4 linked regions of the Homo sapiens genome follow. The protein of the gene in region 2 purifies or fractionates together with the protein of the main gene of each other region. This does not show direct contact. Each region holds a gene or a part of one and is shown on either strand. Other genes may lie near its edges.

Region 1 (7,023 bases), on a different chromosome or scaffold from region 2:
CATGTTTCCAGCTCTCACCAAACCAACCACTGGATTATGACGGGAATAAATTATAGTCTCAGCCAGGACCCCTGACCCAGGGAAGGAGGGGCCTGTGGGGAAGAGGGTGAGGCCGCCTTCCCTCCTCCAGCCAGTTGGCCAGAATCCGTGAGCAGAGCCAGGAACAGCCCTCCCTCCCACGGCTGGTATCGGGGCTCCCACCAGCTGGACTGAGTCCCACCCTGTTGCAGCTCTCAGTTTCTCCATCTCACTGAGGAGTGGAGGGGGAGATTAGGAGGAGTGTCGCAGAGACTTGGAGGCGGCAAAGGGTCAGCAGGAGACTAACTCTGGAGGCAAATGACCAAAGGGGACCAGCAGAGGTATCTTCCTGCGGCTGTAACCCCTAAGCCTCCAGGCCCCTTCCTCTGGGGCTGGGGTCCCCCTTGGATTACTGTTTCCCAACTTTGTGCCTCCAAGCCTCTGTACCTGCCGTTCTGTCTATTGGAAAAAAATGTCCTTCTCCTGCCCCAGCACTCACTCACCCCTCAGAACTCTGCTCAAGTGGCCCATCACTATCCATCTTCCCCACTGACCCTCCCCAATTTTCCAGGTTTGTACAGTATAGTGAAAGCAGCAAGAGGCTGTAGACCAGAGGTTCTCAATTCAGGGTAATTTTGCCCCCATGGGACATTACGCAACGACTGGAGACATTTTTGATTGTCGAGACTGGGGAAAGCGGGGAGATGCTACTGGCATCTAGGGGGAAGAAACCAGGGATGCTGCTAGACACCCTACAATAACAAGCCCTGCCCCCACAATAAGGGTTATCTGATCCAAAATGTCAATGGTGCTGAGGCTGAGAAACCCCAACACAGACAACAAGATCCTTTGCCAATTGAGCCTAGAGCCTGACCTGGCCCCTGCCCCAGAACCCAATCCCCTGTGGGCACCCTGGGCCTTGTACCCAAGGAAGCTCCAACCTGGCTTAACTCCTGTATTTGCTGGCGCCTGGCCTCAGGATCTCAGAGTATCTTCCCCTGTACCCCCACATCAGCCCTACCCAGCCTCCAGAAGTCAGGTCCTATAGCACACCCCATCTGCACCCCACCAGACATGCCATCAGCTAGTGGCCTCCCGAGAGGACAGAGGGCTCCACCTTCAGGTACCTATTCTGGCAAGACTGGACTTCGAGTTAGGTCAGACCATCATCTGAGGATGGAGAGGCAAAGGGACACATAGTGTCCCTACACCCACCCTCCCCATCTGACCTTTCCAGCCTGTGACACAGCCCCTCTTGCTGCACCCTCTACATAACCCCAGTGCCCATCTCACCAAACGTAGGGTCTGGACCCCAGGAGACACCCAGGACATACACATTTCCTTCCCCTACCCAGGCCAGACCCATCTCTTCCACAGCCTTGTTAGTTCAGCCACCCGTCCAGATGTTCAGTGGGCAGGGTGATGAACAAGAGAGTCACAGGCTCTGCCTTCGAGGAGCTTACAGAGGGTGAACAGACCCACCGAGCTCTTGGCTCAGGATGGCCCAACCAGAACTCATCTGCCCCAATTCCACTCCTCCTCCAGGGTGTCCAGTCTTGGGGACAGCACCACCATGTTGTCAGTCACCAAGCCCGCAAACCCTCCTTAAATGCTCCCTTGTCCTCATCCCACACATCTAACCCATCAATAAGTTTGAATCTGACCTGCCTCCATCCTCACTGCCACTGTGTTAGTAAGACCTCATCACTTCCTGCCTCTTTGGTGGGCTTCCTGCCTTCAATCACTCCCAACCCATCCCGCACACAGACCAGTGCCACCTTTCAGCACATAAAAATGCAAATCTGCACTTTTGTTTGCCACTTTATTTCACAGCAGGCATTCAGACAGTGTTCCGTGAAAGAATGAACGGATGGGCAATGGACAGATCAACACATGGATATTGCTTCTCTGCTTAAGAACCTTCAATGCTGCTGTATTGCCCTCAGGAAAAAGTCTAAAGTCTTTAGCCTGACATCCAAGGCCCATGATGCTGACTCTAAACCAACTTACCAACCTCATTCCCTGCAACTCCAGCCCACCCATTCTGTGCTTCTAACAGACAGAGAGGAGAACAAGGGGACATCAAAGAGATGCAGAGGACATGCCCAGATCCTGCAGGCACCAAGCTCTTTCTACGACAACCTACAGTCGATGGGAACAGTCTTTTCTACAGAAACGTGGCGAATGGAGAAGCAGAAGAAAGATCCTGGTGTAAGTCCCAGGACATCACCCGGAAGCCTATTTCACACCTACAGTAGCTGACGAGCTGTATGTCATTCCCCATCCACCTCTATCATCCACTCCAGCCAGAAACTCAGGCACCATCCTTGACACCTCCCCTCCTTCATGCCCCACATTCAATCCTTCACCACGTCCTGTCTACTCTACCTCCCTAAATAGCACTCACATCCCTTCTCTCCACTTCTGTCACTGCCTCCCTGGTCCAGGCCTCCACAATCTCTCACCAGTGCACACTGGATCATGTCATGCCCCCTGCTGACACCCCCTCTATAGCTCTCCACTGACCCTGCATCAAATCCAAGCTGCTCAGCCTGGTCCATAGGACCCCTGTGCACCCCTGCTCCTGGCCACTCTGTGGGGCACACTCACCGAGTCTTTGCTTCTTCACCCCGGTCACTCTTGCTGGATACTCAGCACCAAGGGCCGGGCACCAGGGCCTCCACTCCTTCCTGGACAGAAAGGAAAGCATGAGAAAACATCAAGAATTTCATCACAACAGCATATGTATTGACACAGAAAGACATTAAAAATTTGCTGTTTATGCAGAAAAAAAAGCAGGTTATGGAAATGTTCATGTAGAACCATCCCCATCTGGTAAAAATGCCCATCTTTTCCCTTCACTCCCTCGCTCATTCATTTTGATACTCCCTAAGCACCTACTATGTGCTGGGCGTCCTTCCAGGCACCAGCCATATAGCTGTGAGCCACACAGACCAAGTCCCTGACCTCAGCAGTAGACTCTGTGGCCCAGCTCCTCAGCATGACCCCAGAGCCAAGCAGAGTCGGCCCCTCCCACCTCTGCAGCCCTACCTGCCCATGCTCTCCTCCTGCCAGAACGGGAACTTCCTCTTCTGATCCTCAAATGTGCCAAATTTCTTCCTGTCTCCCAGCCTTGCCAGTGCTGAATGCCACTGCCTGGCACAGGCTACCCATGCTCTTCTGGCCAACTTACCCTCGGATCTCAAGTCCAGTGGCACTTTCTCAGGGAAGCCTTCCACAATGTCCCAGACTACCTGCCTGGACCTTGGCTTGGAGCCGTGACCACAAACATGACTATTTATATATTTTTACAATTACTGAGTCACTACCATAAGCTTGATAGGAGCATGGACTGTGGCTGCCCAGCTCATTTCCGTATCCCCAGCGCCTGGCTGACAGCTGGCACATAGTAGGTGCTCAGTCAGCATACACTGAATGAGTGGATGAACGCATGAATGAGTTCAAAGAAAACAGCCCAGCCTGGAAGAACACACCCCAACATACATGCCAGTCTTCAAAGAAGCTTCAGAAGCAATATTTATTTTTGACTTTCTCTACTCTATAATTTTTAAAATGAAGGCGTGCCCCTGGATGCCTCCTCCGCTGGCACACATGCAGCGACAGAGCCCAGCCCCTTCCTTCTAGAGCCATTATTGAGTCCCCACCAGCGTGGGTACCATCCTGGGTGGGGGTGGGGGTCAGACACACCCATACCACCTCATCACCACTTCACGGAAGCTCAGCTGTTTGGCCTACTCGACGCAAGCTGCACCTTGCAGCAGGCTTCTCACCTCAAGCCCCCACATGCACAGTGATCCCCACCCCACACCACTCTGCCACCTTGGCTCCTCCTATAACGGACACAAAGAAACCACAGTGGGAGGGTGGTGCGTGGGAATGTCCTCACCGGCCCAAGACTGACCCTCATCATGAAATCAAGGACACACCTCTGCACCTGGGAATTACCCTCAAGTTGCACTAACCACCTCTGCCAATATGGGGGTACTCTCACCGACTGAAGGCCATCCCAACTGACCCAAGATGGCCCTCGCCAGCTTGGCGACCCAGCCTCCACTGCCCCACCTACCTGCACCAGAACCCGCAGCCCTCTCTGCATGCTTCCCTCCCCGCTCCCCAAGCTGAGTTTCCAGCAGCTGCTGCTCCCAGCATACAGGCTGCCCAGCAGGTCTGGCCAGACAAACCAGCTTCCAGGCCCCAAACTTAAAGGCCCATTTGTCTAGAGATGCCCGCAGGGCCTCACAGTATTCAAGTGAGGTTTTTGGCTGCACCATTGTGCAGAGACCCTGGGCAGAGGGGCAGAGTCCAAGGCAGGGAACTGGGTAATGGGAAAGGCCCCCCAAGCTGGCCAGGCGCTGCTGCCACACCCAGCCACAGCAGGGTCTCGTGCTTGGAGACTGAGACAGGCCCTACATGGAGCAGAAGCCACACCTGGAAAGAGGTGTGTACCCAAAGTGGCCAGGGGCCATTTTAGAAGACTAAACATTTGCAAAGACCCTGAGGCACACAGAACAGCATGAGGGCAGGATCCTAGAAAAGCCAAACAGTAACTTTGAACCACGTCAGTCTGGGATCAAACTGACCTCAAAACAACCTATCAGGCAACCAAATAAAGACTCAGATTCACCAACTGCAGCTCCCAGAACCCACTCTACACTCACACTGGGACAGAGCCCAGAACAACCAGGACAACCAGATACACCCCCAGAACAGAGCCAGAGCTGACATCTGGAAGGTTGACTAGAAAGCTACTCAGAAAGGGCCTGAATGGTTCAGGACCCAAGTTAGAAATCACACTGCTGGCCAGTCACAGTGGCTCACCCCTGTAATCCCGGCACTTTGGGAGGCCAAGGCAGGTGGATCACTTGAGCCAGGAGTTCAAGAGCAGCCTGGACAACATGACAAAACCCTGTCTCTAAAAAAATACAAAAATTAGCCAGGTGGGACTACACCTGTAGTCTCAGTTACTCAGGAGGCTGAGGTGGGAGGATCACTTGAGCCCAGGAGGTGGAGGCTGCAGTGAGCCACGACTGCACCACTACACTCCAGCCTGGGCAACAGAGTGAGATTCTGTTTCAAACCAAAGAGAAAAAGAAAGAAATCACACTGCTTGGCACCCAGGAAGGCCTCAGAAGGGGTGAAGTCCACAGTCATGTCCAATATCAAGAAAGAAAGCCCTTGGGGCCAACGCAGGGCTGGCCCCAGTAGGGTTCCCCATCATCTGCCAGGCCTGAAACCTGGCCCGGCAGTGGGTCAGGAGCAAGTCGATGATACCTAGGGGAATGCAGGCACAGCTGCCCTCTGGAGCAACCCCCAGAATGCCCCTGTGGCTGCACCAGGAACAGTCCCCAGAAACAGCAGCTAAAATACTGCTAAGGAGCTAAAACCAGAGTTCTCAGACCTAGAAGTCACGGTCACACAGAGACATGGTGCATCTGGACCACAGAGGCAGATGGTGGCAGAAAGAGCCTCAGTAGAAGCCCAGGGCCCAGGGAGGGTGGGAGGAAATGGAGAACTCAATACCCCAAGGCTGCCCCTTCTCAAAATTCCCTTCCACCTACCCCAAACATGGAGTCTCTTCTGCAGGCCTCACCTCTAGTCTTCTCAAGCCCACCCACCTGAAGGTCAAACACCTGAGCAACACAAACAATCCCATCGATAACAATAGGGGCAGGCACCCCCTTTGTTGAGCTCCTTGACCTGCTAATCTCAGCTCAGAATTGCAGCAACCTTAGGCAGACAGGGACCCTAACCTTAGCAGTCTATCTTCTCATTAAAGGCAACCTCATGTGACCCCTGATGGGAGGGTGGGTTTACACCATCCCAGTTGAGGATGATTACAGTAACTGCAAACACAGACAACAGTACTCACTAGATGCCAAGCCCTGTGCTACACACACTTTATGCATACTATCTTTAATCCTCATAACAACCCTTATAAGGCACGGGTTTTTATTATAATCATTTGACAAATGAGGAAGCGGATTCAGAGAGGTTAAGCCACTTGCTTAAAGTCACGCTGCTAGTAAACAGAGTCCAATCCTAGCAGTATAAAACTCGAGCTCTTCACCACTGTCGGAGGTTACTTTCTCTCGAGGTGCACAGCTCTATGGTCTCTCATACAGCTCTCGCTTCTCTTGGTCCGACCGACATTTCTCTCCCATACCCTCACACCAAAGCCCCTCCTTGATGTGCCTCCCCCACTGAGCCTCCAATGTCCCAAGTACCTCAAGGGCCACATGTCCAACTAAGAGCTTATTCTCTGCCCCTCCTCACCAAGTCCCTAACACAGTGAAGCTTCAGGGCCTTCAGTGAAGGCCCGCTCAACCACTCCGAGGAACCTGGACTCCTTCCTCTTCCTCTCCTTCACTCCCACATCCAATAAATCATTCTGTCCTGACAAGTGTACCTTCAAGATGGCACCATGCTACCACCTATCAAAGCCAGCATCTTCTCTCACCTTACTTACCTGCACCCTCTTGCCCCACTGGGCATCCTGTCTCCATCCTTTTCCCATAGCCACAGAGCATTTTCTGGAAACATAAACCTGACCACAGCACACTCCACCCTCCCTATCCAAGCTTTAAACCTTTGGTGTTTTCTCTCTGGGTTCTCAGAGTAAAATTACAGGTACTTAACAGGGCATTCAATGCCCTCTGTGATCTGCCACATCTCTGAATACTTCACAAGTGACAACACCTCCCAGTCTTTATTCATACTGGTTTTTATCTATCTCAAGTCCTTTCTCTCTTCTTCAAACTCCTACTCATCCCTCCAAACCTAGTTCACATCACTTCTTCTTGGTCTCCTCTGGGACTCACCTCACCCTGACCTCCGAACTCTCCCCCGTCTCTTGATGAACTCTTGCAATGTTCTAACCCAACTCAGAACCGCAGCTGCTTTAGTTGAGCAGATGCCTGAACCTTAGGGGTGGGCTGCCTCTTCTACATAGCTGTTAGTCCCAAAGGAAGAAAGGCAGCCGGGGCC
Region 2 (7,023 bases):
GCTCACGCCTGTAATCCCAGCACTTTGGGAGGCCAAGGCGGGCGGATCACGAAGTCAGCAGATCGAGACCATCCTGGCTAACATGGTGAAACCCTGTCTCTACTAAAAATACAAAAAAGTAGCTGGGCGTGGTGGTGGGTGCCTGTAGTCCCAGCTACTGGGGAGGCTGAGGCAGGAGAATGGCGTGAACCCGGGAGGCGGAGCTTGCAGTGAGCCAAGATGGCGCCACTGCACTCCAGCCTGGGTGACAGAGCAAGACTCCGTCTCAAAAAACAAACAAAAAAACAAAACAAAACCAAAATGCCAGGATTCCTGTGAAACTTATATTCACTCTCCCAGGTCTCTCCCACCCTCCCCTGTCCTGCTCTGTGCTTGGGAAACTAGCCTTTGATGCAGCCTCTGGCTGCTGGTTGTGTTCAGCCAGTGGGGAGCAATGGTGAGAAATGGGAAGGAGGGAGAAGACTGAGGTCTTGGTCTTAACTTTGAGGCTCCTTCCCTGAGAGGTCACACTGGATTAGCTGTGTCCCTCAGCCCAAAGTCACAACTCCTCTCAGCAGACTCCAGGGTTCCAGCTGTGGCCCCACCCCTTGCTTCCTGGGATCTAGGATGGCTGCTCCTCAGTGTTGCCAGCCCTGCTGTCCTGCATGAGCCTGCGTAGTTGCCCTCTTCCCTGTCCATAACTTCCGCACAGCCCCTTTATCAAAAACTTTTTTTCTTTTTCTTTTTTTTAGACAGAGTCTGGCTCTGTTGCCCAGGCTGGAGTGCGGTGGTGTGACCTTGGCTCACTGCAACCTCCACCTCCCAGGTTCAAGTGATTCTTGTGCTTCAGCATCCCAGGTAGCTAGGACTATAGGTGCCCTCCACCACAACAGGCTAATTTTTTGTATTTTTAATAGAGACGGGGTTTCACCATAGCGAGGCAGGTCTTGAACTCCTGGACTCAAGTGATCTGCCTGCCTTGGCCTCCCAAAGTGCTGGGATTACAGGCGTGAGCCACCATACCGGCCAAAAACTCTTTTAATTACTGTTGCCTGCTGGTGCTGACTAATGAGGTATTCAATATTCTCTATTTTCCCTTTTATTAAAAATTTGGTATAAAATATATAAATCCTTTAATATATTTCTGAATTTTTTACAAGCCATTACTGAACAAATACTTTTTGATGTTTCTCAATGTTCTTTAAGCACTCATGTAATACTTTCCTCCATCAATCCAAAGTCCAGCATCATCACAAGTCCTACCATGTTATGAGAATTATGTAAACCACAGTGTTTGCCTTTGTATCCTAGTTTTAAGAAAACTCTGTTAAATTTATTAATCATTGTCAATAGTTAAATTGAGTTGAGTATCCAGGAACAACTATTACTCTGCTTCTTGAAATAATTTTTAAAACTGGTTTTCATCCTATTTTGCCATTGTCTTTTCCACTGTTTTTAATATGGTGAATCATCTAAATCCTTTTGGGAATATGAATAAAATACATTGTAATTAATAAACATTTCAATGTAAAAATCAGGCCCACATCATCATTAAGACTGTAGGAAAGGACCAAGAAACCCAATTTCATAAAAGTCCACTTGAAAATAAGCCCAAGACGCAAGAAACAAAAAGCCAGGAGAATAGCTGGATCCCATCCACGGGCATCTGGGTCCAGACAGCAAATCTATAACCACCCCCTTCTCTTCATCCACGGGAAGCACCTCCGGCCCTGGGTAGTAGTTTCTATTTCCTCAGTCTCCTGTGAGGCTTAAGAGACATTTAGGAACAGCCCAAACTTACTCTTGGTGTGGGGCTCCTGTCTTGGTCAGCAAGGTCAGCACAAAAAACATAAAAATCACGAAGACTGCAAGACCAACCCAAAATCCAATCACAATGGAATCTGAAAGACAGTTAATTCTGGGATTAGTATTTCACAGTAGTTTAAAACTTGAACATTCAAGAATCAGAGCTTTTTGGAGAGGCTTTGGTACATGAAACATGAAAGGAAGTCAACAGTCTGATCCGCAGTTGGCTGGAGACTGATAAGATGTAAAGGATGAGGAGGAGGGAAGAGTCTGCTCCGCCTCCAGGTTTCTGTCTCAGATAGCATGAAGGGATTTAGGCCTCATTGACTCATGCTTTCCATATCTCAAGGAAGGAACCTAGACCAGAGCATAGGTTATCTAGGACCTCAAGATTCCACTAATGTGTTTTGAGTTAGAAAATAAAATTTTTAGCAGACTATCAACTCAAGTTTTAAGTGCATTTGGATTCCTACTGTTAAAAGAAAAACTTTAGACAAATTAAATTTAACAGATATTAACTGTGCAAGGAAAACAAAATTCTTGAACCGGGAAGCTCCCAGAATCAGAATAGATTCAGAGAGACTCTGGGCTGCCTCATGGTTGGTTAAGATTTAGGGACAGAAAAAGGAAAATGATGTACAGAAAAAAGAAGCAAGGTACGGAAACAGCTGGATTTGAACACCATTTGAACAGCTGTCTGCCTGGGAGTGCCTGAAGTGTAGCTGCTGTGATTAGCTGAGACTGAGCTATTGTTACAGAAGCATTGGCTAGGTTTTCAGTTTGCTTACCTAGTAAGCTAGGTCACAGCTCATACCTAAGAATGCAAGTATGCAAATAATGGAGGCCTTCTTGGGCCAAATTTTAGTTTAACAACTCAATTGGTTAGCATCTCAATTAGGTAGCAACTTTGCATTCTCACTTACGTTCACCATGGATAATTCAGGCTCTCATTACTTCTTGCAGAGAACATACAGATGGCCTCTTGAGTGCTCTCTCTGCCTTCTGCCTTTCCCTGTGCTTTATTTCTGTACAAACCTGCTTTAATCACAGCCCTGATGATATTGCTCTTTCATGAAAAGCTCTCCAACAAAAACAGAACTGACCCACTTTTCCAGAGTAAAAGAGATTCCACACATAAAGCACTTTATACAATGTCTGACATCTGAGAAAACAGTACACCACAGGTGCTGGCTACTGTCATTAGAATTGTCATTTTCTCCCAATTTACCACTTTAAAAGCCATGTGTTTCCAATCAAACTAGGGGACACTGTGTCCCTGTATTTACCTTAGCCACAGCTTCCTCACAGCCACACCTTACCAGGGCTCTTACCACTACCTGGCTGGAACAACTTTTCCCAACGTGGAGCTAATGAAAGTGTATCCATCCTTCCAAGTCCATCCGCTACACTATCTACTAAGCCTCAACTAATTTCCATAATTGATGTGTTGTCTCCCTCCTTTGAACCCAATAACATTTTTGTCTGTAATTCCCTAAACAGGGCTCTCCTTGGTCCTATCTTGGATAACAATCACAATTCTTTATCTCTAGGACCAGGGTTAGATTGGATTGTCTACAGAACTTGGTACTTGCACAATAAGGCCTCAAATCTAGGACACAACAGAGTTGAATCATTCTACATTTTTTGGCCTACACTAAGAAGCTTGTCTATGTGGAAATACAATGAGGATGCTTAGCAATTTTCTAAAAATAAGTGATTAGAGCTTAAATATTAAATGTGTTTAAATGCAAAGCTTTATTCTAATTAAATTATGTATATGTAGCACTTTTTCCAAAGTGAAGAAATCAGATTAACAATTTACTCTGCATAATTCATACTTTCATCCTACATATACTATTGCCTAGAGGTTAACAATGTGTATTCAGCACTCTGAAAAACTAATGTGTCTAACCTTAAGTGCCAAAGAAATAGAAATTGTATACTTTGCCTTTTAATATAGTAGAAATGAGGCATAAAAAAAGACATAAGGGCCAGGCGCAGTGGCTCACGCCTGTAATCCCAGCACTTTGGGAGGCCGAGGCGGGCAGATCACGAGGTCAGGAGATCAAAACCATCCTGGCTAAGACAGTGAAACCCCGTCTCTACTAAAAATACAAAAAAAAAAAAAAAAAAAATTAGCCGGGTGTGGTGGCAGGCGCCTGTAGTCCCAGCTACTCGGGAGGCTGAGGCAGGAGAATGGCGTGAACCCGGCAGGTGGAGCTTGCAGTGAGCCAAGATCGCGCCACAGCACTGCAGCCTGGGTGACAGAGCAAGACTCCGTCTCAAAAAAAAAAAAAGATGTAAGGACAAATACCAAACACCACATGTACTGAGGTACAACTAACATGAAACAATTAAATCTCAACTATCTAGGCATGGACTGTGAAGAAACATTGTACAGATAAATAACAGTTCCCTACACTGTACTTTATCAACTGCCTGCATAGCAAAAGCAAATTCTAAAATTATACACCAATGCTATATTTAAGTCTTCGGTTTAGAATTGAATCATGTTGATTGACATTTTTCAAATCTGTGTATTAGGAAGGTGTTCTCCTAAGGACAGCTTTCACACTGCAAATGGTGGACTGACTCCCAGAGGTGGAGGAAAGCGTGCCCTCAACCCAGCCCAGTCCCCCTTCCCTCTGCCCTTCTAAGTACCCCCAGGGAGATAATCAAAAAGCAGCAATAATGTGAAGCATGGGAGGGTTACAGCCTTCAGAGAAGGCAGGTGGCGGCAGAGTTGGGGAGAGGCAGGCTGTGGGTAAAATCTGAGAATCCTCATGATCCAACAGCATTTCCAAACATTTCCTTAATAATGCGGCATCTATGTTTTTCATGGCAATATGCTTTAAGTAGCTCTGCTTATTCACATTTCCCTTTGAACAAAATTTAGCTTCCTCAAGTTATTTCCACTAATTTCCCCCAACCTCATCTTCTGCCCTATGACCCATCCCCAGGGGATTTTCTCACCCTGAGCCTCTTACAAGAAACATCAGAGATCCCCATCTCATCCCAGAAATATCCAAACTCTCCTGAAGTTTTATTCACATGTAAGTTTCATGGGCATAGGCACTACAGTAAGATGGGAAAAGTGGAGCCCGTTGTCTTCCCAAAAGCATCCTTTTCTGGGAAGAAGTCAGAATAAAGCTTTATACAGAGCAAAGCTCCAATGAGGCTAGATGGTTAAGAAAGTCAAAAGAAGCCTTCCAAACGAGTTTCCACCACCGCCAAGCTACCACACTCTGTCCTGTCTAGACACTGAGCTACTTAGAGACTACTATTGTAAAGGGGTAGAACAATTGCCCAGGGGAATTGCAAATGGAATGCGTCAGAATAAAGTAACCCCCCTTAACCTAACCTTTAATGAATGGAATGGAACAAGAGAGCTGAAAGTTGACATGATTTTTTTCCTTCCCAATCTAGGGTAGGACTAGGTTAACTACTCCATCCGACTCACCCTCCTCTCCACCTCCTGAGAATAAATGGTGAACTTTCCACTTCGTGGTTATATGAAAAACAAGGGTTAATACTTCACTTGAAAGAGAGGTTCATGACACTTTCCTCACACCACTTTTTGTTCCTAAGGCAGTAGGGCCAATTCTGTGATATGAATTCCTGGCAAAGAGCCAACAGTGATGTTCCCACACTTGTCTCTACTATCTTACTCCAAGCCTTTGCAAACTCTAGCTGTTTCTCATCCTAATGACCTGGCTTCTTGCTGACCCATCCATGCATGGGTCTGGTATCTGCAAGGTGGCACACGAAAAAGCATGAATTTGGCCACCACTGATAGCTCAAATTAAGAGGCTATTCCTTTAGTCTTTTCTCAACACAGCGGCCAGAGTGGTCCTGCTAAAATGTGATTGTCCACTCATTGACTCATCAGCTTTTGCTTCTGATGCTTTAAGAACACCCTGTCTCACCCAGCCACACTCTTCATAAATGACCCATTCCTCTCCTTCCCTTTATAGTGAGACACTTGAGAGATTTGTCTGTACATGCTGTCCCCAATTCCTCTCCTCTCATTTTTTCTTGAACCAATTCCATCAACCTTTTACCCCCAGCATTCCACTAAAACTGCTTTTCAAATCATTGCCAGTAACTTCTACATTATAAATCCAATGGTCAAATCTCAGTCTTCAATTAACTTGACCTAATAGCAGCATTTGACACAGACTGTCTTTGCAACCCTTTTTTCAGTTGGCGTCCAAAAAACCACAATTGTCCAGTTTTCTTCCTACTTTCTGTACATTCCTCTCAGGCACCTATGCTGCTATGCAACCCTCCAACTTCTAAACACAAGCGTGCCCAGGGCTCAGCATTGGACTCTTCAGTTTTCTGTCTACACTCACTTATCCAGCCTCTTGGCTTTGAACGCATACCGTTTACATGCTGATGACTCTCAAGTCTACGGCTTCCCCCGACACCTCTCCTCCCTTGTCCTCCTGGATATGTGATAGATGTCTCAATTTAACAGGTCCAAAACAGAGCTCCTGGGGTTCCTCTCTGAAACCTCCTTCTCCCATACTCTTCCCCCTCTCAGTTAAAGGCAATTCCATCCTGCCAGTTACTCAGGTCATAAATCTTCAAATCATTCTTGACTCTTCTTTCTCTTACACATACCGCCAATCCATTGACAAATCTTGCCAGATCCATCTTTTAAAAATATCCAGAATGTATGCATTTCTCACCACTTCACTCTCCCTACCTGGCTCCAAGCCACCATCATCAGCTGCCTGGACTATGGCAAAAGCCTCCTGAATGGTCTCTGCTTCTAATCTCATGCCTTTCACTCCGCAGTTGCAGAGTGATCTGTTGAAACCTAAGCCAGATGGCACTCCTCTGCTCCAGACCCTCCAGTGACTTCTCAGAGTAAAAGGCCAAACAAAGTCCTTAGCATGACCTCTAAGGCCCCCCCATGTCCTTGTCCCCACAGCCTCTTTGACTTCGTTTCCTGCTGTTCTGCCTCTTATCACTCCCCTGGTACCACGCTGGCCTCCTTGCATGATCCAGTTCACTCCCGCCAAGGATCCTTTTCTGGGATGTTCTTCCCCCAGATATATTATAGCTCAATCTCTCACTTCCTTCAGGTCTTTTATCAAATCTCTCCTTCTCAGTAAGGCTTTCGATGGCAATTCTATACTGTCGCCTCCACACTCCACATCCCTTTACCCCCACTCTATTTATCCTTTTATATTGCCATCTGACATTATCTATTTAACTATTTATTGTCTG
Region 3 (7,393 bases), on a different chromosome or scaffold from region 2:
CAGCTGGTACAACTTCCCTCTCCTATCAACACTCAGAGCACTTGGTATGTGCGGCTCTCAAGCAATGCTGATAATTTTCCTTAGGACTGTTTCCCCTCTGAGCTACAGGCTCATTCACTTACACATTCCTGAGCCCTGTAGGACCCTGTGTTTCAAACCACAGGTCACTATAATGGGTCAGGATGTCAATTTAAAGCTATAATTTCCCAAAATTGCCTGAGAAGAATCAGCCAGGGCTAGCGTTAAATATACACAGGCCAACTGGCCTCTCTCCTGGGGATTCTAATTTAGTCTGTCTTGGAACTGATTATATATATATATCATATATATCATATTTGTGTATATATCGTATGTGTGTATACATCATGTGTGTATATATATCATATGTGTGTATATATCATGTGTGTATATATCTATCATATATGTGTGTGTATATATCATATGTGTGTGTGTGTGTATATATATCATATATATATATATATATGTTGGGTTTTTTTGAGTTAGGGTCTAACTCTGTCTCCCAGGCTGGAGTGCAGTGGTATGATCACAGCTCACTGCAGCCTCAACCTCCCAGACTTAAGCAATCCTCCTGCCTCAGCCTCCCAGGTAGCTGGGACTACAGATGTGTGCCACCACGCCTGGCTAATTATTTTATTGTTTATAGACAGGGTCTCACTGTGTTGCCCAGGCTGGTCTCAAACTCAAGTGATCCTCCTGCCTCAGCCTCCCAAAGTTCTGGGATTACAGACATGAGACAGATCTATTTTTTAACCAGACCTCTAGGACCTAGAATCTAGGTCAATGCTTTTCAATCTGTAATGTGCACACAGCACACCTGGTGAACTTGTTAAATACCAATCCTGGTTTACTGGGGCCAGAATTCTGCATTTCTAACACATTTCTGGGTGACTCAGTGCTGGTGCTGTCCCTAAGTGTATGGCCCATAGGTAGTTTGCCCAAATTCAAGAGATTCTTGTCTTCAGGCACATTGGGGAAGCAAGAATTGAGCACTGTTGTTCTCAACCTCAGCACACCTGGGAAGCTTTTAGACTATACTAAGGTTCAGGTCCCACTGCAAACCAATTAAATCAGAACCTCTGGGGCAGGGGAATGGGGCCGGGGAGTGGGGCGGGGGGTGGCTGTTGTTTTGTTTTCAAAGCTTCCCAGATGATTCTAATGTGAAACAGGGCTAAGAATCACTGATTCAGTGGGGCCCCACCACCATTAAAATGAATGAATGAATAAACTGAAGAGAACAAACAATCTCCCAGGCTGGCAGGGTAAACCCTGGGTCTCTGTTATATGTTATTAATACAGATGCACGTGAGTTGCTGGATCAGAGCAGGTTTGGACATGAATGAAGCAGAAAGGGAGAAGGTCCTGGAGTTCACAGACCAGCCATGGGGACAGACTGCAAGGACCTGAGGTGGGGGCAAGGGAGGGTGGGGCTGACAGCACTGAGGGGCTCTGCAGCAGGACGTAGTGAGTTCAGATGGGGCAGCAGTGACCAGAAGCCTCTGAACTGAGCCATGCAGGAGGAACAGGACATTGTTATGAAGCAAGCAAGACCTTTTAGGCACAGAGGACAAAAAATACCCAAGCGTTGGGGGACGTGAAAAGAATGCAGCAAGTTCAGGGAAGGGAACACCAAGGGGCTGGCTGGCCCTTGGCCATTTGGTACTGGGGGTGTGAAGGGGAGTGGCAGAGATAGTCACTCACAGTAGCTGATACTCCACTGACAGCTTGCGTAAGGCTGTTTTCGTGCACCTAAGAGCCAATGAAGTCTGAGGGCACCAGACAACCTTCTAGAAAGCATTTTTTGAGGGGAGGAGTGGAGGGTGATTAAGCAAAGATCCACCAGCAACCTTCTTATGGCCCTTTCCCCCAGGAACCCAGGCCCTGCCTTCCAACAGCTCTGCTCTCCACCCGCATTTCATTTCGGCAAACATCTCCTAGGCGCCCTTTTTGCCAAGCACTGAGTTGGAGAGCCAGGAAAAAGCCAGACAGCTCTGCCCTCATGAGCTGGCGGTGGGAAAGATCACACTGTCATGAGTGACTACAACATAGGACAGGATGTCAGAAGCGCCCCAAACTTTGGGGCATGGGAAGGCAGGGGCAAGGACAGTCAATTTTGCCTGAGATGATCAGGGAAGCCTTCTAGGAGGGAGAGGAGGCAAAAGGACCTTGAAGGGCTATTTGGTGAAGGGCTAACATGTATCAGTGGTGAAAGGGGGAAACAGGCTTAAGGAACACAGGATTTGCAAAACACTGAGACTGCATATGGCTAAAGCACAGAATATAGTTGGGGTTGAGGTGGACAGACTGGCAAAAGGGCCAGGACAGGACAGCCCCGTGCACCGAGTTAAGGAGTTTGGATTTACTGGGGGAACCAAGAGGGAACCAAGGGGGAACCATTGGAGATTTTTAAGCTGCGGGATGACATGATCACAGCTGGGTTGGAGGATATCTGGCAGCTGACCTAGTGGTTGGAGGTATGGAATGCAGGAATGGGTGGATGAGGACAGAAATGAAGGGCTAACTTTAAGATGGATCTGGTATCCAAAAATAGAGGGTTTTCATCCCCAACATTCATATGCCCAAGAAGAGCCAATGAAGGGCCTGGGGGTTTCTGACAAGGAACTAAGAGCTGGAGGGGCAGAGGACTGTGCTGTGGCCTGCAGCAGCATAAAAGAAGCAGACTGGGCTCAGCTCCAGACCTCAGTTTTCCCGTTAGCCTGGGATTTTCTGAGTCTGGTGTGCCCCAATTGTGTGTTTAATTTCAGTCTTTTCCTTCTTGTTCAGGTTTTACCGCAGGAGAATAACCTCTCCATTCTAATCTGAAATTAATTATTTATGCTTATGAACACGCTGGATGCCTGCCTGGTTTATTTATTTTTCAAATAATGCATCTGAATAGGCATTCACACAAGACAGGGCAAACATAATTTTGAGGCAAAGGCCCTTTCCAACTGTTGCCCGATTAACTGTTCTAAGCCATTGTGTAGCCTTGTCCTTATCCTGCGGAGTCCAAAATTTATCCCTCGCGTACTAATTAGATGGCAGGTGTCTGTGTCTGACAGTCAAGATTCGCATTATCCAGCCCCACCACCTGACCCTTACAATCTTATCTCCTGCTGCTATGACTTTCTCCACTGGGCCAAATTCCACTCATCCATCCTCCAAGGCCCAGTTCAAACGTCTGCTCTGTGAAGCCATCTCTGGTTCTCCCTCGAGGGGGGAGGTCCCCTCATGCTTCTGAATTTCCAGTCTTTTGTTGTTGTATCCTTCATCAGACGCTAAGCTCCCCAGGACCTGGCACGCAGTAGGTTCCTCAATGGAGCGTTTGCTGGAATGGGGGAGGGTGGTCTCCAGCTTCCCGAGAGGCACCTAAGCACGCCAGCCAAAGTGGGGCTGGGCAGAGACCAGACCCGCTTTTGGAGTCAGTGTCTACAAAGTGCTCTCGGGGGAAGGGGGCACGCGGGGAACGTCGCCCACCCGGAGCCGATCCCCCCAAGAACGCTTCACTCGGGTGGGGTTACTGCTTGGGCTCGCCCCAAGCACAGTGCGCACACTTCACACATCCGCAAGCCTCCTGAAACGCCTCTCCCCTCAGGCCGACCTTTCTGTTTCCTTCAACGCCTCCCATCTGTTGTGTGCGTTCCAGTTTCCAACTCAGAGTCAGAACCATCATTTCCAAAGACTCCTGCAACAGCCCGAGGACGCATACAAGGCATGGGTTACTTTTCAGACGGAGATTTGGGGCTCAGGGTCCAGCGACTCACCCAAGGTCACTCTCAAGAAGTATGAGGGCTATGACTTTGACCCAAGCCTTCTAACTCCCCGGGCAGCGCTCCTCCCAAGCCCCCCGCAAGCTGTCTGAGCTTCAAAGGAAAAAGTTTAAAAGTGATCCATACGTCCCAAAGCACGCACAAAGCGTTCTTCTGTAAACTGCGGCATGGGTCGCTGATAAAAGGTCCCTCTGAAGGTTTGAAGATACTCAACAAGGCTCCACAGAGGGTACTTTGGAGTTTTCCGCGAAGGCGCTCGCCCCGCAGAACCGACAAGGCCCCTAAAACCGACAATGCCCAGACGCCCCCTGCAGGCAGCGCGCTAGAGAACGCGTTGGCTGTTTCTGGCACGCTGAGGCCACCGTACGGCATCAAGGGTGAAGCATGGTGGCTAGCGGAGCCCGCATCCTGACAGGTGTGCTGGCGTGGCCCTCTACCTGCCCCGCCGCGGCGGCCTGCGGCCAGGAGAAGTAGGCTGGCGACATCTGGCGGGCCGCGGGCCGAGGGAGGGGAGGCGGGGCGGGGCGGTGTCTCCCTCACGTGACCCCAACAGCGCCCAGCGCGTCGCGCTGCGCCCCAACCTCGGGGTCGGTCACAGTCTGCGCCTGCGCGGGCCCCGGCTCGCTAGCCGTCCTGCGGGACGCCGGCGCTGATGGGTGAGTGTGGGACGAGCGTGGGGAAGCACCGGGCTTTCTTCGCATGAGGTTGGAGGGAGGGGAAACGCGCTGAAGGGCCCGCTGGGGCAGGCTGCCGCCCTGGGGGCCCATCCCTGTCTTCTGCGCGCTCCGGCTGCCCTGGCCCGGTCCCTGCGGGCCCCACCCAGGCGGCGCGGGCGGAATCAGTTCTGAGCCTCCTCGGCTCCGGGCTCCCCCGCCTGCCGCGGGTGTTTGTCCGGCTGCTGGGCGACCTTTCCCGCGAAGGCGCTGTCCCTTCATTCGGGCGCGCCCTGGGCTGGGGAGGCACCTCCCTGGTGCACAGGAACCGCAGGGGCGGGGAGGAGCCGGGAGCTGCCTGCGCCCGGGGGACAGCGGGGATGGCACCGCGCAAGGGCCTCTGCGTCCCGGGAGACTGGGATTTCGGCCTCACCTCGGGACCCCTGACTGTGAAGTGTCAGAAACGGAAGAGGACTTAGTGATCTTGTCCAACCCCCTCCCCGCCTTTCACAGGTTGGGGAAATGGACGCCTGGAGAACGGTAAGTTCAGCTACATAGCCTGGCAGTGCTTGTTCTGCGACAGCATATTGCATCGCGTTGTAGGAAGCTCACTTGTACAAGGATTTTCGGGGACGATGGTGTTGGTGGTGTTAGTCTCCATCCATTATTTGGTGTTCAGTTTAGCTAGATGGAGTATGTCAGCACCTCAACTTCCTGCAAAACCTTTGTTTTGCATCTCACAGCTCTACCTAGCTGATCTTAATTCCCACCTTCTGTTTTTCTCTACTTGTAATCTCTGAAACAGAAGCCCTTGAAATGTATAGTGACCTTGCCATTTTGAGCCGCCTCTGCCCGTGCTTTGAAAGGATTCCATAGGATCAAAAGGTGCTAGGACTCTTGAGGTCCCATAGTGGTTTAGAGCACAGGTTACCGCTTTGGAACTGGAATCACCCTTAGCGCATCTCAGGGGAAAACAAGCTAGGAGTTGACTCATCTGATCTCTCGTTTGGTAAATGAAAGCAAACTCAGATCAGTGGATTTTAAAATCAGATATTGCTTTGTCTTTATATTGGCAAGCTAGTGTCGTAACTAGGACTAGACCCAGGCTGATCTTGTTCTGAATGCTGACTCAGACCTGCTGACTAGTGGAAATTCACATCCTTTGAGAATTGGAGTCACCCTCTCCCCAGTTTTTGCAGAGACCTTTGTGCTAGGATCATATCTGTATCATGCTGATCCATGTAGGCTGTAAATTATAATAAGGTTTTAGACTTTACACTGTTTTCTTAGTCACAGAAGCTTGACACTTGTAGTTGCTTGAAAATCAAGTTCATTAACTGCTCCCTTATGATGAGATAGTTTTACGTAGCAAACAAGCGTAAAGTTATGGTAAATAAATTTTGCAATAAATTGCAAAGAATTATCCACATTAATGAATAAAAATATAAAGATCAGTTTAGCAAAGAAATTTAACCATGTTCACAGTATAGGTAAACATGCAAAAGTCTAAACTGTACTACCAAATAATGCTGTGCACATTATCCTTCTATTGCTAAATTAAGAACATATTCACACCATCCTGGTGTGTAGGATTAAACTAGAGAAAAAGCTTTAAATCTGTAAAGTCCAGGAGGGTTTCATAACATTTTTTCCCCCATCTAGGCCTATTTTTTAAATCTGAGAATCTCAATGTACAGTAATGTTCTTAAAATAGTTGGATATGGTGGTCAATAAATGGTTAACTTCTGTTAGCTGTAGTTTTCTGCTTGTTTAATAACAGTCCCCATTCTCACACAGAGTCATAAATAAACTAACCTTTATTTGCAAAATTTCAGAAAGTAATACAAGTAACATTCCAGTAAAAGTGAACATGGACAAAATTTTTATTGTTGTTCAAGTACACAAATAACTTGGCTTGTACTGTCAAGGAGCATGTGTAAACAGCTTGTAGGTGGTGACTTTAGAATTTAAAATATTTTGTGTGCTCCGTATGTAAAAATAAAATGGTTTTGACATTCATAAATTGTCACAATATCATGTAATCATGTACATTAATCTAAATATTCTTGTTGATTTAACATTGTTTAATTCTGAAACTGAAGAAGTGCAAAGCATTACATAGGTATCAAGCATTTCTAGACTAAGTTTTAGGACTTCAAATATTGATTAATCTTAGCTTGTAAGTGTACTAATAAGAGTTTTTAACTCATACCTATCAGCTGAATCAGTAAAAAGTAAGGATGTAGTAGAACTAATAATTATCAAACTCAATACCCTAACAGACTTCAGTGTCTAGAACATATCTTGAAGTTAATCATATTAAGCCCCAAAACTCTGTACATTAAGAAAGGGAGAGGAGAGAGGGAACAGATGATATTCTGGAACCTTTTTTTTCCCTTTAATCTTATTTTTACTGTGAATAACAACACTAGACTCACTGAAGATTTTGGGACACTTACTAGCAAGCATAGTTAAGACAAAATGCCAACTCTCTTAAATAGTAATAAGAGTTTTGCTCAAAGAAAAGTACACAGCCTTAAACAGTCAAGTTATGAAATAAAGGATAAAAATAGTTGTCTCACTTAAGAATTACAAGAAAATAAGCCAGGCACAGTGGCTCACACCTGTAATCCCAGCACTTTGGGAGGCCAAGGCAGGCTGGATCACTTGAGCTCAGGAGTTTGAGACCAGCCTGGCTAACATAGTGAAACCCCGTCTCCACTAAAAATACAGAAATTAGCCGGGTATTGTGGCATGCCTGTAATCCCAGCTACTTGGGAGGCTGAGGCAGGAGAATCGCTTGAACCCAGGAGGTGGAGGTTGCGGTGAGCCAAGATTGCGCCACTGCACTCCAGCCTGGGCAACAGAGTGAGACTCTGTCTCAAAAAAAAAATTTTTTTTTTAAACTAGGTGAGCATGGTGGCTGATGCCTGTAGTCCCCTTTGGGAGGCC
Region 4 (7,023 bases), on a different chromosome or scaffold from region 2:
TGCTCGCCTGTGGGGCTGGCTGCTCCTGGTGGTCATTCTGGCTCTCAGCCTGCCCGGAACTAGTTGGGAACAAAGACTTGCCCCTCACCCTCACCCTGGTGGCAGAACCTGTGAAGTTAGTGGAGATGGACTTTGTTCTCCAGAGTCCTCTAAGCTCTCTCCTCCCCTTCATCCCTTCCCCCAAAACCTCCTCTCCAGGCACCTACCTCACCTATCATAATGAATGGGAAAAACACTATTAAAAAATGACCTCTCTCGGGCTGGGTGACTGAGCCCTCAAGCCTGGGCAGGATGGGTACGGTGTCTCTAGAATCATCCCTGCGGCAGACAGCAGCCATCTGGCAGAGGCGCTTTCTGTCCCTCTCAAACACAACCTTGAGTGTATGCTAGAATCACCTGGGGAGCTTTTAACAACTACACTGATGGACTCAGAGATTGTTTGAATTGGTGTGGGAGGCAGTCAGGCAAGGGAATTTTTCTAAAGTTCCCCACGGTGTGCAGGCAGGAGTGAGAACCACAGGGTCTGGGTGGCACCATCATGGCGAGAATTCTAGTAAGGTAGGCAGAAGAATTTTTGGTTAGACAGAACACCTAGGCCTGCTTCTATCAATGAATCCTCAGACCAGCTCTGCAAGGAGGTTATCCCTGCTGTGCAGATGAGGAACCTGATGCCCAAAGAGCTCATCTGACTGACTTCCTCAAGGTCAGGGCCAGGACTAACCAAGTCTCCCTGACTCCAGTCCAGGCGTGGTGACTCACACCTGTAATCCCAGCACTTTGGGAGGCTGAGGCAGGCGGATTGCTTGAGGTCAGGAGTTCGAGACTAGCCTGGCCAACATGGCGAAACCCCATCTCTAGTAAAAATACAAAAATTAGGCGGGCGTGGTGGTGGGCACCTGTAATCCCAGCTACTGGGGAGGCTGAGGCACAAGAATCACTTGAGGTTGCAGTGGGTGACACCAGCCTGGGTGACAGAGCAAGACCCTGTCTGAAAAAAATAATAATAATAAAATAAAAAATAAATAAGTCTTCCCGACTCCAAAGCCCACGCTCTGTCCTCTGCCACGCTGCCTCTGTAATGCTCTGTGGACTGAGGCGGCTGCCTATCAGGGGTGGCCTCTGCCTGTTAGAAAGGGTCCAGGGCCTGCTCCCTTTCCTCTTCTGCAACTCGGGAATCACGAGGGGAGGGTTCCTCTGGTGACCTGGGCTGCTTCCCCTGTGTGGCTGCAAACAGCTGCTTACCTGGTCCTTCCTCTGGGAGAGGCGCTGGTGGCAGCAGCCATAGAGGGCCGCCACGAGGAGCAGGAATGATGCCATGCAGACGATGGTGATGATGAGGGGCATGCTGAAGCGGTCCTCGGCCTCCTCCGGTGGCCCCTGGTCCCCTAGCTTCATGTCACTGACCCCTGCCTGCATGGGAAGTGGCAGAGAACAGGCTGGGGGCATCCTCTCTCCCTCAGCCCCCGGCTTCACTGTAGAGCCCCTCCGCTTGCAGTCTGCTAGGGTCCGTGCCGCCGCCCTCTTCTACATGCAGGCACATGACGGGGTTCCTCCCCACAGAGAGAGGGGAGTAACCAGACCTCCCACAAGGGGCTTCGGAGCCACTCTGTCCCCACACTTGGGGGGCCGCTTACCTCCTTTAGTTCATCCCATTTGTCCTTCAGCCGCTCGTACACATCCTTGGCAGGGAGCTTAGCTGTGGGAGAGGGAGACGATGCCCAATGGCCCAGCCCAGAGCGAGGCAGTGGGGGACGGGGACTGCGCCCCAAGAGAGGGACGCACCGTATCTCAGTCTCCTGAGTGTCTCTCGGGTGACCTGGGAGGGGGTGTGGCTTGACAGTTCTTAGGGAACTGAAGGGGCACCACTGTGACCCACCCTCCAATGTGGCTTCTGCATGCCCCCCATTCCCACCCATGCAGGCCCCAGCCCAGGCCCCCTTGCCCTCCACTCACTGTGAATAGTGATTTCTTTGACGACCACGGTCTGACTTCCTGGAACAGATGCCAGCCGTATGCCGCACTTATCTTGGGCCGGGTTGAAGGTGGCTTTGACTGCTCGGCATATCAGTGAGATCAATTTCTCATCCGAAGCGCCCCCTGCCTATGGTGGGGAGAGCGCAGGTGACTCCGCGGGGAGCGTGACAGCAGCCTAGGCCTGTGGGGCTGCCCTCCCAGCTAAGGTCGGGACAGTGCTGTTGCTGTGCTAGAACCTGCCTCCCTCTCTAGCCCCAGCTGGTGCTCCACGCAGGCCTGCCAGGAATCAAGGGTTGCATGCTGTTCTCCTGGGCCAGTTCCTGCCTCCTCTGTCTCGTTCCCATCAGCCCGTTCTCCGCACTGTGTTTATCTGGTCTACGCTTGCACCTTTCATTCCTTTCACCCTAGTGCCTCTTTTTTCCCTCCAAGCTGTTTGCGGATTGGGGGTTGTTTTCATCTCCCTCCCTAGAACGGGCTAGAGAGGGGGCACTGCACAGCAACCCTACCCCACAGCCCGCAGGGAGACTCCAATTCCCCCTAAACTCCCATTCACCAGCCTTTCATGCCCAGTTCGGAGAAATCAGGTGGGGAGGCTGCAGCTCTCAGCAGAAGGGTCTCTACCCCCAAAGCTGAAATACATGTGCCCTTGCCCTAGGCAGAGCCTCTGGCTCTGAAGCCACGGACAGGCTGACAGGGAAGGGGCTCCACTGAGTAGGGGAACAGGTGGGATCTTGAAGCTACCCCTAGGATATCTTGGAGGGGGTCTTATTTAGCTCTAAGAACAAAGATTGTGGCTGACGTGGCTTTAGAGCTGAGGATGAGGGGAGAAGTGTGGGCAGCATGTATCCAGTCCTGCCATGCCATCTAGGGGCACCCCTCCCTGGGGCTTCTCTGACCTGATTCTGGAATAAATGACTAAGACAAAGAAAAGGACTCTAGGGATAGCTTAGCACAGAACCCATACAAACCACCCCTAAGGTTTCTACCAGAATTTCCTTAGGCTTAGTAATTCCCCACCCTGACATCAGGAAGGGATCCAGGGTTTTCCATCTTCCTTTTCTAGCAAAGGGAAAAAAAAAAAAAGTGTCTCACAACAATCACACAGCCTACCAAGCTACATCCAAAAAGAGGGTCTGAGGAAGGGCTGGGCGGGCACCTGACTGTCCCCAGAGCCCATATCATGCAATGCCTGCCTTGTCCAATAAGCCCAGCCCTAGGAGAGCACTGCTCCCTTTTAAAACTCTGGTCTAGATGTAGGCTTTTGTAAAGTTCACTTGGAAAATGCCGGCATAATGGACACCCAAAAGAAAACAACTGCAGAAAATTCAGGCAGCATTAAAGTGTTGTAAGCCCAAATTCTCCATCCTATCTATAGACACCGTGTTCAGGTCTGTTCTAGTTCTAGTTCCTAGGGGGTGGCTGCAAAAAACCGGCACTGACCGGGAGAGGGCAGCAGTGAGCCAGCCATCTCCAGCACCCGCCGCGCTCGGCAGTTATTTACTGAGTGTGCACAGCGCACACTCCCCAGACCAAAGCCTTTGGACCCATGGAGACCGGTGGCCTGAAGGCTGCTCACACACTGCTACCTCCCTCACACAGGTGTGCTCACACGCACGCTCACCACCCAGACTGGAGAAATGCTGGCAGTGGCTCCTGCATTCCTGGGCCCTTTTCTCTCCCACCCATCCCATCAGCTCCTCAGGTTAGAGGGAGAATCTCCCAGCACTGTTCGTCCATCAAGGCTCTCAGATAGTCCACAGACCAGGAAATGTGAAGCCACAGACGATTAAAGCAGACAGACTACACCTCTCATTTTCTCTTGCTTTTCTTTTCTTTCTGTAAAAACAGGGTCTTCCTATGTTTCCCAGGCTGGTCTTGAACTTCTGGCCTCAAGCAAACTTCCTGCCTCAGCTTCTCAAAGTGTTGGGATTACAGGTGTAAGCCACCACACCTGGCCTCACCTCTCATTTTCAATTGAGACATCTGAAACCCAAAGAGATCAACTCACCAAAGTCACTCCCAGAGCTAGGGGCAAACAGGAACTAGGATCAGGGTCCCTCAACTCAGCATACTGGAAATAGTCACACAGTGAAAGCCGAGGAAACCGGGGGGTGGGAGGGGGGGGTCCAGTCCTGTGGGTGTGTCCTGACTTAGAGAAGTCTTAAACCTTGGTCTGTTGCTCTGTAAGATGGGAAAGGACCACTTCCTACTAGGAAGAAATGAGGGCCGGAAAGCAAATGCACCTTAGAAAGATGTTTAAAAATGCACCTAGAAAGAACATACATTCCCTCTCCCTCCCTCAGCCCTGCTGTGAGCCTGCACCTGGCGGCTCAGATCAGCAAGCTACTCACACAGAGGGTGTTTCCTGTGAGGTTCAGGACGAGCTGCTTCTCACTCTGTGTCTGTGTCTCAAGATCCTCACACTTTGCCTGGAAGAAGCCACTGAGATTAAGGTTTGGGCTAATAGTCATGGAATCTTTGACATTTCCCCCCAACTAAGGGGTGACCCAGATAGGAAAGAGTTCACGGCAAGCTGGAGGCATGGCTGGACCCATTCCAGAGCCAGGTATGTCCTGGCTGCGTGGCTTGAGGGCAGCTCAAGCCAGGACCAGGCTAACCAGGGAGAGGGAGGAGGGAATGGGTAAGTGCTGCTCAAAGCCCCAGCCAGGGGCCCTGCGTTGGAGGAAAGAACAGAAAACCTTGTCTTAAAGCCTCTTCTACCCGAGTCTGGGTTCTCCTACTTGCCCCACCCCTGCTGGAGTTACCCAGTTACTCTCATGAGCCACAGTGGGAGAAGGTGTTTTGGGGTATCGGTGGGTAGTTGATGCTGCTGTGGGGCTGGAGCTCATGGTCTCTGGCAGGGTAGGTGTTCTCAATGCCGTTGCCGGGCTCGTGGGCTGCACTGTCTCCTGGGAGGAAGGGGCCGTAGAGCTGGCTGGCATCTGACTGGAGGTCTGTTGAGTTCTTTGCGAGATAACCGATGACGCTGTCATTGGGAAAACGAGGGTAATGAGAAAAGATGAGTGCACCCTTGCGAGAAGAGGACAATCTTTTCTTGCTCTAATAGTTTTCCCAGGTTCTTTGGTCTTACCTCCCACAGAGACGGAAGAAGTGGACTCCTATGACAAGCCAGTGGAATAACCCGGCAAAGTCACAGCAGCCGCAGCAAACGTTCACTGAGCACTTAACTTTGTGCAAGGGACTGGGTGCCTCAAAGGTACTTTCCTACTGAATCCTCACAATCCTCTGGGGAAGGAATCGGCATCATCCCTATTTCATAAACAAGGAAACTGAGGCTCCGAGGGGCTCAGTGATTTGCCCGAGTTCCTGTGCCAACAATGGCAGGGCAGGGATTCGAAGCCAGGATTATCTCAGCCGGAGCCCGCACTCCTACTGTGTGGCACCCTCCTGTGGAGCGGTGGCCTGCTGACTTCAGACCATATGCCTCTGATATGCAGCAACATCACCAGGAGCGCTCAGAAACTCTGGGTCCACAGGTCTGAGATGGGCCATGATCCTAAGGCTCTTGATCCATAGGTAGATTTTGAAATTGATTTACTAGGTTAAGACAAGCTCTTATAAATAATAAGTAAGTAAGTAAGTAAACAGGTATCGGCCGGGCATGGTGGCTCATACCTGTAATCCCAGCACTTTGGGAGGCCAAGGTGGGCAGATCACCCGAGGTCAGGAGTTCAAGACCAGCCTGGCTGACATGGTGAAACACTGTCTCTACTTGAAAAAAAAAAAAAAAAAAAAAAAAAAATTAGCTGGTGTGCTGGTGCACACCTGTAGTCCCAGCTACTCGGGAGGCTGAGGCAGGAGAATTGCTTGAACCCGGAGGTGGAGGTTGCAGTGAGCAGAGATCATGCCACCGCACTCCAGCCTGGGTGACAGAGCGAGACTCCATCTCAAAAATAAATAAATAAATAAATAAATAGGTATGAAATAGAAACTATTCCCCTCTCAGGTTCAAGCAATTCTCCTGCCTCAGCCTCCTGAGTAGCTGGGATTACAGGCGCCTGCCACCATACCCAGCTAATGTTTGTATTTTTAGTAGAGACAGGGTTTCGCCATGTTGGCCAGGCTGGTCTCGAACTCCTGACCTCAGGTGATCCACCTGTCTCGGCCTCCCAAAGTGCTGGGATTACAAGGCATGAGCCTTTTCAGAGCCATCACGCCTGGCCCTGAAAAGTTTCTTGGTGCTTGAAGAAAACCAGGCATTACTTACGTAGGGTGGTGGTCATCCCCGGGCTTGTGAAGGTGTAGCCAGGGATAGCCACAGTGCTTGAACTGCTTGAAATTTTCATAAGATGGTCATGTCCCGAGCTTGTTGGGGTGGCCACAGGATGCGTCGAAGTGGGTTGTCGGGGGCTAAGTGGACTTGTAGGGTGAGGGGTCGTCAGATGTTCTGCCTTAGTGGATGTGAGGTCTGTGGTCACACTGTGGCTGCTTTTCCCCCCAGAGTTTGTTGTATCTTCTGCTCCATTCTGGCTGCTTGTGGTGTTAGGTTTAGCTGTGGCTGTGGAGGTTGCAACTGTAGTGGTGTCTGCACTTTTTGTGCTCTTGGGGCTCTCGATGGTGGTAGTAGGGTTGCCTGAGCCGCCTCCTCTAGCCACGGTAGTGTTGACTGGGCCTGAGACTTGCTGAGCCAGGGTTGTAGTCCCCGGTGAGTCACTGGATACACCAAGGGTGGTCGCCTTGACCGAGGCCAAGATTTCGTTGGCCTTGGAAGTGGGGACTGTGCTCTGCTGGGCTGTATCTGTAGCCATGATGGTGACACTGGATGCTGGAGTCGGTGCTGTTTTGTTAGATGAGTCCGTAGTAGTCTGGGTTGCTGTTTGTAAAGATAACAGAGAATGGAGTTAGGGCTGGGAGGCTTCCTCACCACGCTTCTCCAGCTCTTCCCCAGGATTCAGAGGCCTTGCTCGCAGCCCTGCTGTCTGCCTTGCTAAAGGCCTGGGTCTTTGGTGAATCCAGAATTTTCGGAGGTTCAAGAAACCTCTTTTTTCTGTCTTTTTTTTTTCTTCTTCCTTTTTGTGGAGAATGGGG

What was found.
Region 1: the proteins of MRAP2 (region 2) and PTPRF purify together in Homo sapiens (affinity purification with mass spectrometry; 2 studies listed by BioGRID and IntAct, with this or other methods). This does not show direct contact.
Region 3: the proteins of MRAP2 (region 2) and SLC25A51 purify together in Homo sapiens (co-immunoprecipitation; 3 studies listed by BioGRID and IntAct, with this or other methods). This does not show direct contact.
Region 4: the proteins of MRAP2 (region 2) and PODXL purify together in Homo sapiens (co-immunoprecipitation; 3 studies listed by BioGRID and IntAct, with this or other methods). This does not show direct contact.

The regions. Positions count from the first base shown.
Region 1 is NC_000001.11:43,533,883-43,540,905, reverse strand, and holds part of PTPRF (receptor-type tyrosine-protein phosphatase F isoform 1 precursor), read right to left. Parts: intron 2,709-7,023; 5' UTR 2,629-2,708; intron 1-2,628. UniProt on the Homo sapiens protein: Possible cell adhesion receptor. It possesses an intrinsic protein tyrosine phosphatase activity (PTPase) and dephosphorylates EPHA2 regulating its activity.
Region 2 is NC_000006.12:84,057,750-84,064,772, reverse strand, and holds part of MRAP2 (melanocortin-2 receptor accessory protein 2), read right to left. Parts: intron 1,881-7,023; coding exon 1,781-1,880; intron 1-1,780. UniProt on the Homo sapiens protein: Modulator of melanocortin receptor 4 (MC4R), a receptor involved in energy homeostasis. Plays a central role in the control of energy homeostasis and body weight regulation by increasing ligand-sensitivity of MC4R and MC4R-mediated generation of cAMP.
Region 3 is NC_000009.12:37,901,119-37,908,511, reverse strand, and holds the start of SLC25A51 (mitochondrial nicotinamide adenine dinucleotide transporter SLC25A51), read left to right. Parts: upstream 1-4,384; 5' UTR 4,385-4,444; intron 4,445-4,954; exon of another isoform or gene 4,955-4,981; intron 4,982-7,393. UniProt on the Homo sapiens protein: Mitochondrial membrane carrier protein that mediates the import of NAD(+) into mitochondria. Mitochondrial NAD(+) is required for glycolysis and mitochondrial respiration.
Region 4 is NC_000007.14:131,504,626-131,511,648, forward strand, and holds part of PODXL (podocalyxin isoform 1 precursor), read right to left. Parts: intron 6,809-7,023; coding exon 6,203-6,808; intron 5,707-6,202; coding exon 5,611-5,706; intron 4,961-5,610; coding exon 4,740-4,960; intron 4,404-4,739; coding exon 4,326-4,403; intron 2,102-4,325; coding exon 1,954-2,101; intron 1,697-1,953; coding exon 1,635-1,696; intron 1,411-1,634; coding exon 1,243-1,410; intron 1-1,242. UniProt on the Homo sapiens protein: Involved in the regulation of both adhesion and cell morphology and cancer progression. Functions as an anti-adhesive molecule that maintains an open filtration pathway between neighboring foot processes in the podocyte by charge repulsion.